Linked DNA regions of Homo sapiens. The protein of the gene in region 1 purifies or fractionates together with the protein of each later gene. This does not show direct contact. Each region holds a gene or a part of one and is shown in the gene's direction. Other genes may lie near its edges.

Evidence for each region.
Region 2: the proteins of PPP1R10 (region 1) and PPP1CC purify together in Homo sapiens (affinity purification with mass spectrometry; 10 studies listed by BioGRID and IntAct, with this or other methods). This does not show direct contact.
Region 3: the proteins of PPP1R10 (region 1) and TOX4 purify together in Homo sapiens (affinity purification with mass spectrometry; 4 studies listed by BioGRID and IntAct, with this or other methods). This does not show direct contact.

The regions. Positions count from the first base shown.
Region 1 is NC_000006.12:30,603,644-30,607,466, reverse strand, and holds part of PPP1R10 (serine/threonine-protein phosphatase 1 regulatory subunit 10), read left to right. Parts: intron 1-610; coding exon 611-688; intron 689-825; coding exon 826-999; intron 1,000-1,223; coding exon 1,224-1,329; intron 1,330-1,431; coding exon 1,432-1,544; intron 1,545-2,372; coding exon 2,373-2,473; intron 2,474-2,731; coding exon 2,732-2,879; intron 2,880-2,955; coding exon 2,956-3,114; intron 3,115-3,212; coding exon 3,213-3,459; intron 3,460-3,623; coding exon 3,624-3,687; intron 3,688-3,800; coding exon 3,801-3,823.
Region 2 is NC_000012.12:110,736,280-110,740,102, reverse strand, and holds part of PPP1CC (serine/threonine-protein phosphatase PP1-gamma catalytic subunit), read left to right. Parts: intron 1-3,823. UniProt on the Homo sapiens protein: Protein phosphatase that associates with over 200 regulatory proteins to form highly specific holoenzymes which dephosphorylate hundreds of biological targets.
Region 3 is NC_000014.9:21,475,630-21,479,229, forward strand, and holds the start of TOX4 (TOX high mobility group box family member 4), read left to right. Parts: upstream 1-1,565; 5' UTR 1,566-1,649; coding exon 1,650-1,655; intron 1,656-1,866; coding exon 1,867-1,935; intron 1,936-3,600. Other genes in the region: RAB2B (ras-related protein Rab-2B), read right to left, coding at 899-970, 1,198-1,243. UniProt on the Homo sapiens protein: Transcription factor that modulates cell fate reprogramming from the somatic state to the pluripotent and neuronal fate. In liver, controls the expression of hormone-regulated gluconeogenic genes such as G6PC1 and PCK1.

The DNA.
Region 1 (3,823 bases):
GTTGGCCAGAAGAGAGGTGCCATAGATCAGAGATGTTATTTGCCAAGTACAAAAGGAAAGAGTTACAAAGTATTTTTTCATATATTTAGAAACAAATTTTATTCTTGTTTTCACATCTATAAAGGAAAATAAAAAGTCTTCAGATTGTTGTAACAATTAGGTGTGTTATACATAAAGCAACTAACGTAGCTTTTTAAAAAAATGTCAGTTTTTGAGGAACTGGTGGATTTTGGTTACATGTATAAGTTCTTTAATGGTGATTTCTGAGATTTTGGTACACTCATCACCCAAGCAGTGTACACTGCACCCAACGTGTAGTCTTTTACTAATGTAGATTTTAACCACATATTCTGAAATATTAGGTCTTTTTACTCCAGAGTGGTGTGATGACATCAGAGTTGAAAGTTATCCAAGTAGAACACAACTCTAATTCATTGTTCCATTTTTTAAGGGTTTGGTTTTTAAGCATATCTCATGTTCTTCTTAAAACTTTGGGTTACTTTCTCCGTTACATAAATTTTCACAATATTTTCTCAAACCTCCCATTTTCTGTTCCTGGAAGAATGTTACTTTACATTATTTAGGCATTTCCCCTTTCTGTCACCTGCAGAGCTCCGGAAATTGGCCTCAGTCCTTGTCAGCGACTGGATGGCTGTCATCCGCTCTCAGAGCAGTACCCAGCCTGCTGGTAAGCTCCTTAGTCCTTTATCCTTTGTATTTATTTCTTTCCTATTGGGATGTGGCCTTTAGGTGCTCCCAGTCTGCTTCACCTCTGACAGTGTTCATCTAAATAAAATCCTTTTCTGCTTTGTTTTTTCACAACAGAGAAAGATAAGAAGAAACGTAAAGATGAAGGAAAAAGTCGAACTACCCTTCCTGAGCGACCTTTGACAGAGGTGAAGGCTGAGACCCGGGCTGAGGAGGCCCCAGAGAAGAAGAGGGAGAAGCCCAAGTCTCTTCGCACCACAGCACCCAGTCATGCCAAGTTCCGTTCCACTGGTAAGACTGGCGGCTGGCCTCTGGAGGGTTCATGGGCATGTGCACACCCAGAGCCTTATGGGGGAATCATTTGATGTGTGGTATGTTAATCGTAAGGAAGAGGGAAGACTAGCAGAGGAAGCTTTGGTTACAAGGCTAGAAGAACATTTGCGGGTGAGAACGGGAGGAAAATTCGGGGGTCTGGGGTTTGAGTTCAGCTGCCCACACCGTGCTTCTTTCCCCAGGACTAGAGCTGGAGACACCATCCTTGGTGCCTGTGAAGAAGAATGCCAGCACAGTGGTGGTTTCTGACAAGTACAACCTTAAACCCATCCCCCTCAAACGTCAGAGGTATGGACCATATTCTCAGGCTCTGAATGGGGTGGATCTGTGGACACAAGGGAGCAGGAGGGGGTGAGTCGGAGATGTTGATGACAGTTCCTCTTCTGACAGCAACGTAGCTGCTCCAGGAGATGCCACTCCCCCTGCAGAGAAGAAATACAAGCCACTCAACACAACACCTAATGCCACCAAAGAGATCAAAGTGAAGATCATCCCGCCACAGCGTGAGTCTAAAGTGGGGAAGATGTACTTTGAATTAGGAGCAAACTTTTTTTTTTTTTTTTTTGGAGACAGAGTCTCACTCTGTCACCCAGGCTGGAGTGCAGTGGCACGGTCTTGGCTCACTGCAAGCTCCGCCTCCCGGGTTCACGCCATTCTCCTGCCTCAGCCTCCCGAGTAGCTGGGACTACTGGTGCCCGCCACCACGCCCGGCTAATTTTTTGTATTTTTAGTAGAGATGGGGTTTCACCATGTTAGCCAGGATGGTCTTGATTTCCTGACCTCGTGATCCACCCACCTCAGCTTCCCAAAGTGCTGGGATTACAGGCATGAGCCACCGCACCTGGCCAGGAGCAAACTCTTATGGGAATGAATGTCCCTGGGAACGAGAAGTTTTTTCCCTTCTCTTTTATTATTTCCCTCCATTTTCCTTTGATTTCTTGGTATCCCTTACTTTTTGTACCTCTGGAACTCCCGTTTCAGGGGTCACTTAGGAGTAATTTTAGAGATAAGATAGGGACGTGTGCCATTCTGTGACTGGTCAGGGGCACCTGGTAAGGTGATCTGTCATGTTCACAAGGGCTCACTTCGTCAGCTACCTGAGCTATAATTCACATCCAAAGCTATGGCTTGCCTGCCATGAGAAACCTAGAATAACAACAAGAATATCCTGTGTGAATCCTCCTGCATGTGCTTCCTGGTCCTCTTGAGCTTATCGTGTCCTAAGTTGAGGCAGGGTCTTCACTGGCTCATTTTATGCCTGGACTGTGTTTGCAGGTGTAGGATTATGAAGGAGGTCTGATGATGCCATTTGGTGCTCTTTCTTTTTGTAGCTATGGAGGGCCTGGGCTTTCTGGATGCTCTTAATTCAGCCCCTGTTCCAGGCATCAAAATTAAGAAGAAAAAAAAAGTACTGTCACCTACGGCTGCCAAGGTATGGGCTCCCAGAAGTAGGTTTCAGTGACAGAGTATAAAAGGTAAAGTAGAAGAAAGGGCACAGCAGCTAGGAGTTGTCGGGGAGGACAACAAGAGGCGTTTTGCCTTGGATATAGACTGGTGCAGGTGAGACATTGTGGAGACAGAGTCTTCCTTTATATAGGAACTGTTGGGGGACTGTGCCTGGGACCCTGGACTAATTGCCTTGCCCTTGGCTTTCCAGTCAGTTCATTAACTTCCTTTTCTTTCACAATAGCCAAGCCCCTTTGAAGGGAAAACGAGCACAGAACCAAGCACAGCCAAACCTTCTTCCCCAGAACCAGCACCACCTTCTGAGGCAATGGACGCAGACCGTCCAGGCACCCCGGTTCCCCCTGTTGAAGTCCCGGAGCTCATGGATACAGGTAATCTAGAAACTGGTTCAGTTTGGGGGGTTTTCTGAAAGGAGGGATCTGGGTCTGAAACCTCTTCTGCTTCCAGCCTCTTTGGAGCCAGGAGCTCTGGATGCCAAGCCAGTGGAGAGTCCTGGAGATCCTAACCAACTGACCCGGAAAGGCAGGAAGAGGAAAAGTGTGACATGGCCTGAGGAAGGCAAACTGAGAGAATATTTCTATTTTGAATTGGATGAAACTGAACGAGGTAAGAGGTCATTTCCTACGTAATAGGTGTGTTTAAGGGATTTTGAAAGGACTTGGTTGTGCTTACTTTCCCTCTTGCTTTTCTTCCCCTGCCGACAGTAAATGTGAATAAGATCAAGGACTTTGGTGAGGCGGCTAAGCGAGAGATACTGTCAGACCGACATGCATTTGAGACAGCGCGGCGTCTGAGCCATGATAACATGGAGGAGAAGGTGCCCTGGGTGTGCCCCCGGCCCCTGGTTCTGCCCTCACCTCTTGTCACCCCTGGAAGCAATAGTCAGGAGCGATATATCCAGGCTGAGCGGGAGAAGGGAATCCTTCAGGAGCTCTTCCTGAACAAGGAGAGGTGAGCAGAGTGGGGTTCGTGCCCTGGGATGTTGAGTGCTTGGACACTCCTGAGGGAACATGAGCTGGGGTAATTACGGGGTGGAGGTTAGAAATTACTTTCAGGGTCTGAATTAATAACTTGACTATCATTCTTTTTTCTCTCACCTGTGTTGTTCCTGATAGTCCTCATGAGCCTGATCCTGAGCCCTACGAGCCCATACCCCCTAAACTCATCCCCCTAGATGAGGTAAGTCAATGTTCTGTGATGATGGAAGTTGTGATGGTCATTGAATTCGGTGCATCTTTCATATGAGAATGTCTCTGTTCTGTCAATCCTGATTTTTTTTGTTCTTCTTTCAGGAGTGTTCCATGGATGAGACTCC
Region 2 (3,823 bases), on another chromosome or scaffold:
TGAAGTCTTAAGAAAAACAGCATGTTGGTTTAGATCTTAGTCACTAACCTTTGCAGTTCTTTTCTTCTCTGAACTCTGAGTATTTCTGTAAGCGAGGCATCACCTCTGCAACCCACCATGGATGCTTTTATCCAAGCTCTGCCTTGCTGATGATAAAACTTAAGGTTGTTAACTCCTTAGTATAACTGATGTTAGTTATTTAAATAACTACACAGTAAAACGGCATTTTGAGAGAAAATAAGCCAGCTGTTGATTTGGTCTGATGTATTGAAGACAAGTGAGATTTGGGGCAGTTTTACTTTGTAAATGACCTCCTTCAAGGAGCCATGGTGGCTAGCATTTTTTTTGCATAGCAGGTGGTTGTAACTTACTTCACATCTTGGTTTGCAAGAAGCATCTTTGCTTTGAAGAAGGCCATTGTCAAAGTGCAAGACCATGTCAGGCTCTGCAGAATTGCCTGACTTGTTTTAGTGATTTAAATATGATCTCTGCCCTGGCTCACAGAAAGTGCTTACAGATTTAATCCTCTGATACATAAGGGTTGTTCTGAAGGTAGGGAGTGTTCAGATATTCTGAAACTCTAAGATTGTTTAAATAACCCATATGTTCATCTTTTTGATGCAGTATAAAACGTTCATATTCTGGTGTTTAGCCATCCCTGGTCCTAAAGATAATAAAGGACAAACATAATGGTTTAAAAAGGGGAAGGTTTCTTAATATGCTAACCAAAAAAAAAAACAAAAGTAATCTTTCCTAATGAACACCTGTAATTATTTATTTTTTTATTTTATTTTGGAGACAGAGTCTCACTCTGTCACCCAGGCTGGAGTGCAGTGGTGGGATCCTGGCTCACTGCAACCTCTGCCTCCCGGGTTCAAGCGATTTTGGTGTCTCAGCCCCCTGAGTAGCTGGGATTAACAGGCATGCACCACCACGCTCGGCCAAGTTTTTGTATTTTTAGTAGAGATGAGGCCAGGCTGGTTTTGAACTCGTGACCTCAAGTGGTCTGCCCGCCTCAGACTCCCAAAGTGCTGGGATTACAGGCATGAGCCACCGTGCCCAGCCTGTAATTATTTGTTTACAGAGCAGGTAATTTTTACACTCACATCCAAGTTGTCAGTTTCTAATTCCCTCATTGATAAGAACTCTGATGTGAGCCCTTGCCCTTCCTTTCCCATCAGTATGTTGGTCATATGCCCACTTCCTCTCCTCCTAGGCAAGGTGGGAAAGCTCTGTTGGAGACAGATGATCTGCAGCTTGCAGGAGTCCTTTTTTAAACCACAGCATTGAAAAAGGATTACTCTCCTTGTGCCCGCAGTGCCCTCTTGCCTGTCAGTAGCAGGAGGCAGCAGTGAAATCTGACAGAATTGTGTGTGACGTTGTGCTTGCGGGGGATGTGACACACAGGAGCGCTCTGCATTCTGAGCCTAGGGTGTTCCTCCTCATAACTGGGCAAATGGACATGCAGTTGTAGCCCAGCAGTGGTCAGCTGTAGAAATTAGTGAGGTGATTTGATGTCTTTGAAAGCACAGTCCTATTACAACCTGTAACCTGTTGTGCAGAATCACAGTACCAGTCAGCCCACTTGACTAGGTGAGGATTCCTGATGGTGAAGCAGGGAAATTATTGATGTTATGTGGACTTCACCATTTAACTTAATTTACAATTGAGGCCATTAGTTGACCTGAGAGATTAAAATATGAAGGAGATAATATTCTGGGTGTCAGTCGCTTTGTAGATAAAGAACTGGAAAGTCATTCAAGACCAAGAAGGAAGGATTTCATTTCCATGGAGCTTATGGAATTCCAGGATAGAGTTTGATATTTTAAGATCATACCTCTGTATCCAAAGCATCAAGAACAGATGATGTGTTTGTGGATCTTGGTGATTTGTCTGAAATCTCCAGCTTCCCCACTTCACTGGGGTTTACTGTCATCCCTCTTCTAGAAGGTAGTGGTCATCACCGACAGTAAAGCTTACAGCAAATGAAAACTCAAAATGTAGTCTACTCAGTGGTATATTACCGAAATGTGTTCTTAGACTGTGAAAATTAAAGTTTTTAATGGATTGGCTTTACTCGAGGTGTAGAAAACTCAAGATGCTTTATTGAGAACAGTAGACAGTGTTTTGCAGCCACATCCTATCTGCCTTGAAAAAAATGGTGTCACTTTTATTTTTTTTACTAGAGACTGGGTCTCACTCTGTCCCCAGGCTGGAGACCTGAACTCCTGGGTTCAAGCGATTCTTCCTCCTCATCCTCTTGGCTAGCCGGATCTATAGGCACACACCACCACACCTGGCTAATTTTTTTTTCTTTTTCTTTTTTTCTTAAAGACAGGGGTGTTGCCTAGGCTGTTCTTTAACTCCTGGCCACAAGCAGTCCTCCCACCTCAGCCTCCCAAAGTGCTGGGATTACAAGCGTGAACCACAGCTCCCTGCCTTGGTGTCACTTCTCAATGCCTGAAGTGTAACCCCATCTGTTAGGAAAATCAGGATGGGAGAGGGCAGGGTGTGGAAACAATTGTGATAATCAGAACATGGAAGTCTTTCTGCTGGTGACTTTGCAGAGAAACTTAAAGGGTTCTTTTTTCTTTTCTTTTCTTTTTTTTTTTTTTTTTTTTTTTTGAGTCTTTCTTTGTCACCCAGGCTGGAGTGCAGTGGCAGGATCTCGGCCCACTGCTGCCTCCACCACCCAGGTTCAAGCGATTTCTCCTGCCTCAGCCTCAGTTGTTGAGTAGCTGGGACTACAGGCATGTACCACCATGCCCTGCTAATTTTTGTATTTTTGGTAGAGATGGGGTTTTACCATGTTGGCCAGGCTGGTCTCAAACTCCTGACCTCAGCTGATCCACCCACCTTGGCCTCCCAAAGTGCTGGGATTACAGGCGTTAGACACCGCATCCGGCCCAAAGGATTCTTGATAACATTTTTGTGGTTTATACTTTTTGCAGAAAAGAACTCAGTCGTTTATGGGAATGCTTAATGTTGGAAGTATTTACTGTTTTTTGTTTTGGTTTGAGTCTTATTTTCCTAAATCTGTCAAATATCATGAGGCTATTGATTTCACTGAAATGAATATGATGTGGCATATTGTTAAAATTATCACCTACTTTTTAACAGGATTATTTTAAAACAGCAAAATCTTCGTTGGCTTATTTTTATACCACTTGTGCCTTTCTTAGGTTCTGAAACTTCATTAGAATTCAGCTAGGGCTTTTTTAGTATATGCTATTTCTTTAATATGTTTTTATTTAAACAATTAAGGGGCCTTTATGTGGCAAGGAAAATACTTTTTTATTCCTTATAAATAATCTCAAACTTGTCTTAAATTTCCTTCCATAGTTTCCATCTTTGCTTTGCTTTTTGCCAGCAGCTAACTTTCAAAAGTTAGTATTGCTTATGAGAAAGAGCTGGTGTTGTAAATAATCACCAATGCTATTTTATTTATTTATATTTTTTGAGACAGGATCTCACTCTGTGGCCCAGGCTGGAGTGCAGTGGCATGATCTCGGCTCAATGCAGCATCTGTCTCCCGGGCTCAAGTGATCCTCCCATCTTAGCCTCCCGAGTAGCTGGGACTACAGGCGCACGCCACCATGTCCAGCTATATTTTGTATTTTTGGTAGAGACTCAATTTCACCATGTTGCCCAGGCTAGTCTCTAACTCCTGAGCTCAAGTGATCCTCCCACCTCGGCCTCCCAAAGTGCTGGGATTATAGGCCCAAGCCACCACATCTGGCTGCTATTCTTTTATAATTCAAATTTTTACCAGTTTGTTTTCAATAAAAATGTGTGGAAGTTTTTATTATTGCTCGTGTCAGTG
Region 3 (3,600 bases), on another chromosome or scaffold:
TTGCCAGAGGCACAATTAAGCATTGTTGCCTTGTTAAGCATTGTATCATTAGCCCCTATCGCAAAGTGAGAATTCGCTCAATATTCCCTTTAAAATACCTTTTAGTTGATACTGCCAAATCCTTTTCTAACCCCATCAATTATTTGACTCTAAATAAATCCGTTAGGAACAGTGGTAGCTTCAGGTTTCCATACAGGTGGGACTTGGAAGTAGCAATATGGTAAGAATGGGGATGTAGGGGTTTATTTAGAAACTGCATTTGCATGGCAAGAAAGCTAGTTTCATATATGTTGTTTATTTGGACTGGGGTTACGGAGATAACGAAGAGGGGGTAGTTAAAAGCCTCTTCAGGCCATGCCTTATCACAAACGTGTGGGAAAGGTTAATATTTTCCAGGATCGCCAGTGCGTTTGAGGAACTGTTAACACACTCTTTCATTTAAAAGGAAAGTTTTTAGTTTTATTTGCCTATTAATTCTAAGGCAGGGATGACTCCTCAATTTGCTTCTTCACCAATATAAAAAATGTCCATGTATTGGTGTTTACTTTTTAAAAGTAAGGCTGGTATTAATTTACCTCAAAGCACAGATGAGTTCATAAATAAGCAGTTATGCTTTCGTGGGATTTTCCATAAACATACAAATTGTATTTGAAAAAAAATTATATGACGAGTCTATACCTCACACTCTAAAAAGTTACCTTTCAATTATATACTCTCCCTTACACTACTCCCCACATATCAACGTTTCATTGGTCACTTCATTAACATAAGTTTGGACTAGTTTAAAGTAGTGAGGGGTAACTTTTTACTTCGAACACTGAAGGCTGCTAACTTTCCACTTTAGCAATTTAGCTAGTCAGGTTTTATCATCTGTTCTGGAACAAGTAGATGCACTTACCTATTGTGAGGTCGTGGACAGGCTGGAACCGCTTATCTGTAAACTGCAGGAGGAGACATGACTTCCCCACACCTGAAAGAGAAAGCACACTCCCGGAATCACGCAGCCCTGGAACACCTTCCAGAGTATGGACTTCCCGGACCAGAGAAGGGGGGCTCCCGAGCCCCGCCCCCGGCCGCCCCGAACCGCCCCGCCCGTCTCGAATCGCCCAGCCCACAAAGTGAGCCCCGCCCCCGCCACCCAATTTGGGAGCTTCGAATGCCCGCCCGAGCCTTGAAGGCGAACCACCTGAGGGTTACCTGTGTCTCCGATGATGATATACTTGAAGAGATAAGCATAAGTCATGGTGTCGCGTCCTCTGGGTTCCGGGTCCGCCCGACTTCTATAGCCACTTACCTCCGACCTCTCTAGCCACTCAATCTACCGATCTTCTTCTTCTCCCCCTTCCCCCCGCTCCCCCGCCCCTCCGGCTCCTCTAGCCCAGATCACGTCTCTATTGCACTCCCCGGAATCATCCTTAGGTCGGGAGTACCCTACGCCACCTCCAGGGACGCTTCTAGCACTTCTACATGCCCTTATCCCTCCAAACTCCAGGGGGCGATAGCCCAGCGCCTGACTCTCTGCAGCCCCACGGCGCTCCTTCCAATCAGCAGAGAGAACACACGTCCTTGCGGAAGTGACGGCAGTTCCGAGTCCAGTGGGGGCGGTGGGAGCGATGAGGGTCTGAGACGGTGGGAGCGGTTGTGTGAAGATGGAGGTAGGAACCTGATAGCTAAGAAGGCTGGCGAGAGAACGCGGCCGACCGGGTTGAAGCAGGGACGGGAAGCCGGGCGGAGAGGCGACTGACGGGAGAGGAGAGAGAGCGGGGTTTGGGGAGTGTTGTCAGAATGTCAGGGTCAAAAGCCATCGCTCCAAGCTGACTCCCTGCTCCCCCTAACTTATCCCCGCGACTTTCTTTTGGTTTCCAGTTTCCCGGAGGAAATGACAATTACCTGACGATCACAGGGCCTTCGCACCCCTTCCTGTCAGGGGCCGAGGTGAGCCAGAGCTGCCGACGCCGCGGGGGTAGGGCCTGAGGCAGCGGTGGGGTAGGGTAGTGGGGAGGAGAGCACGGACTCCGGGGACGGGGGCTGGGAACCAAGGGCCGCAATTGGTGTTTAGAGAAAAGTGGCGGTTGCTTCTAGAGCCTGTGGGGACTATCTGGGGAAGTCTTGGGAAGTTGCTGTCATCAGAAAGCAAGGTATTGGAAAGAGATAACCTGTTTAAAGAGAAAAGGGATTCTGGATTAGAAGACAGAGTGGAATTGTCTCCTTTCTCTGGGGAGAAATAGCTACAGTAATCTTAGGGGATCGCAGTGGAAAGAAAATGTTTCAGCAGCTGAAGAAATTGGGGTTGAGGGGAGGAGCTTATTGGTTTTCTTTTGTTTTGAGACAGAGTCTCGCTTTATCGCCCAGGTTGAAGTGCAGTGGTGCGATCTCGGCTCACTGCAACCTCTGTCTCCTGGGTTCAAGCGATTCTCCTGCCTCAGCCTCCCGAGTAGCTGGGATTACAGGCGTGCGCCACCACGCTCGGCTAATTTTTGTATATTTAGTAGAGATGGCAGTTTCACCATATTGGCCAGGCTGGTTTCGAACTCCTGACCTCAGGTGATCCACCCACCTCGGCCTCCCGGAGTGCTGGGATTACAGGCCTGAGCCATTGCGCCCGGCCTAAATTTCCTACTTTGATAAAAAATTTGTGGTTACCTTTACCTACATGGTGTCAGCTTGTTTTGCTAATGTCAGGAGGAAAGGAAATAGCTGCTAGAGAATATAAAAGAGTTGAGTAGGACATGTGTTTCAATTTGCCAGTGACTCAGACGTTGGGCACATTACTTCATCTTTGTATGTCACAGTTTCCCCAGCTGTCAAACAGCTGTAATTATAGTTTCTTATGCTGTTTTAAAGTAGAAGTAAAGGTTATGATGAAACCCTGAAGTGTTCGTTAAAAAAGTTTGGTTGAAATATTGTCATAATATAGATATGTATCACTTGTTTGGGAGAGGCAAAAGAGAATGGTGGAACAGACAAAAATTTCTGTCTTTGAGAAACTGAAGTCTTGAACCATCTGCCATTTTTTGAGGACTTTTATATTTATTTTCAAAAGTGGTGTGGACCATTTGCATCAGTTTTTTTTACCAAGAATTGTCAGTGGCTGTTGCATGGGCTTATCCTATAATCCTAACGTTTTCATGGATGAAAATGGGGTTGACAAGGGCCAGTTGCTAGTTTAACTTTTTTTTTCTTTCTTTTTTTTTTTGAGACAGTCTCCCTGTAGCCCAGGCTGGAGTGCAGTAGCACGATCTTGGCTCACTGCAGCCTCCACCTCCTGGGCTCAAGTGATTCTCCTGCCTCAACCTCCCAAGTAGCTGGGAATACAGGTGTGCGCCACCACACCCAGCTAATTTTTTTTTTTTTTTTGAATTTTTGTAGAGACGGGGTTTCACCCTGTTACCCAGGCTCTTTAACTCCTGGCCTCAAGTGATCTGCCCGCCTCAGCCTCCTAAAGTGCTAGGATTACAGGCATGAGCCAATGTGCCCAGTGCCAGTTTAACTTTTTTGTTGCTTTTATTTATTATTCTCATAAGCAGGATAAGTGTGAATCTAGTATGCAGCAAACTTTGAAATGATATAAAACCTAAATCTGGGCCCAGCACAGTAGCT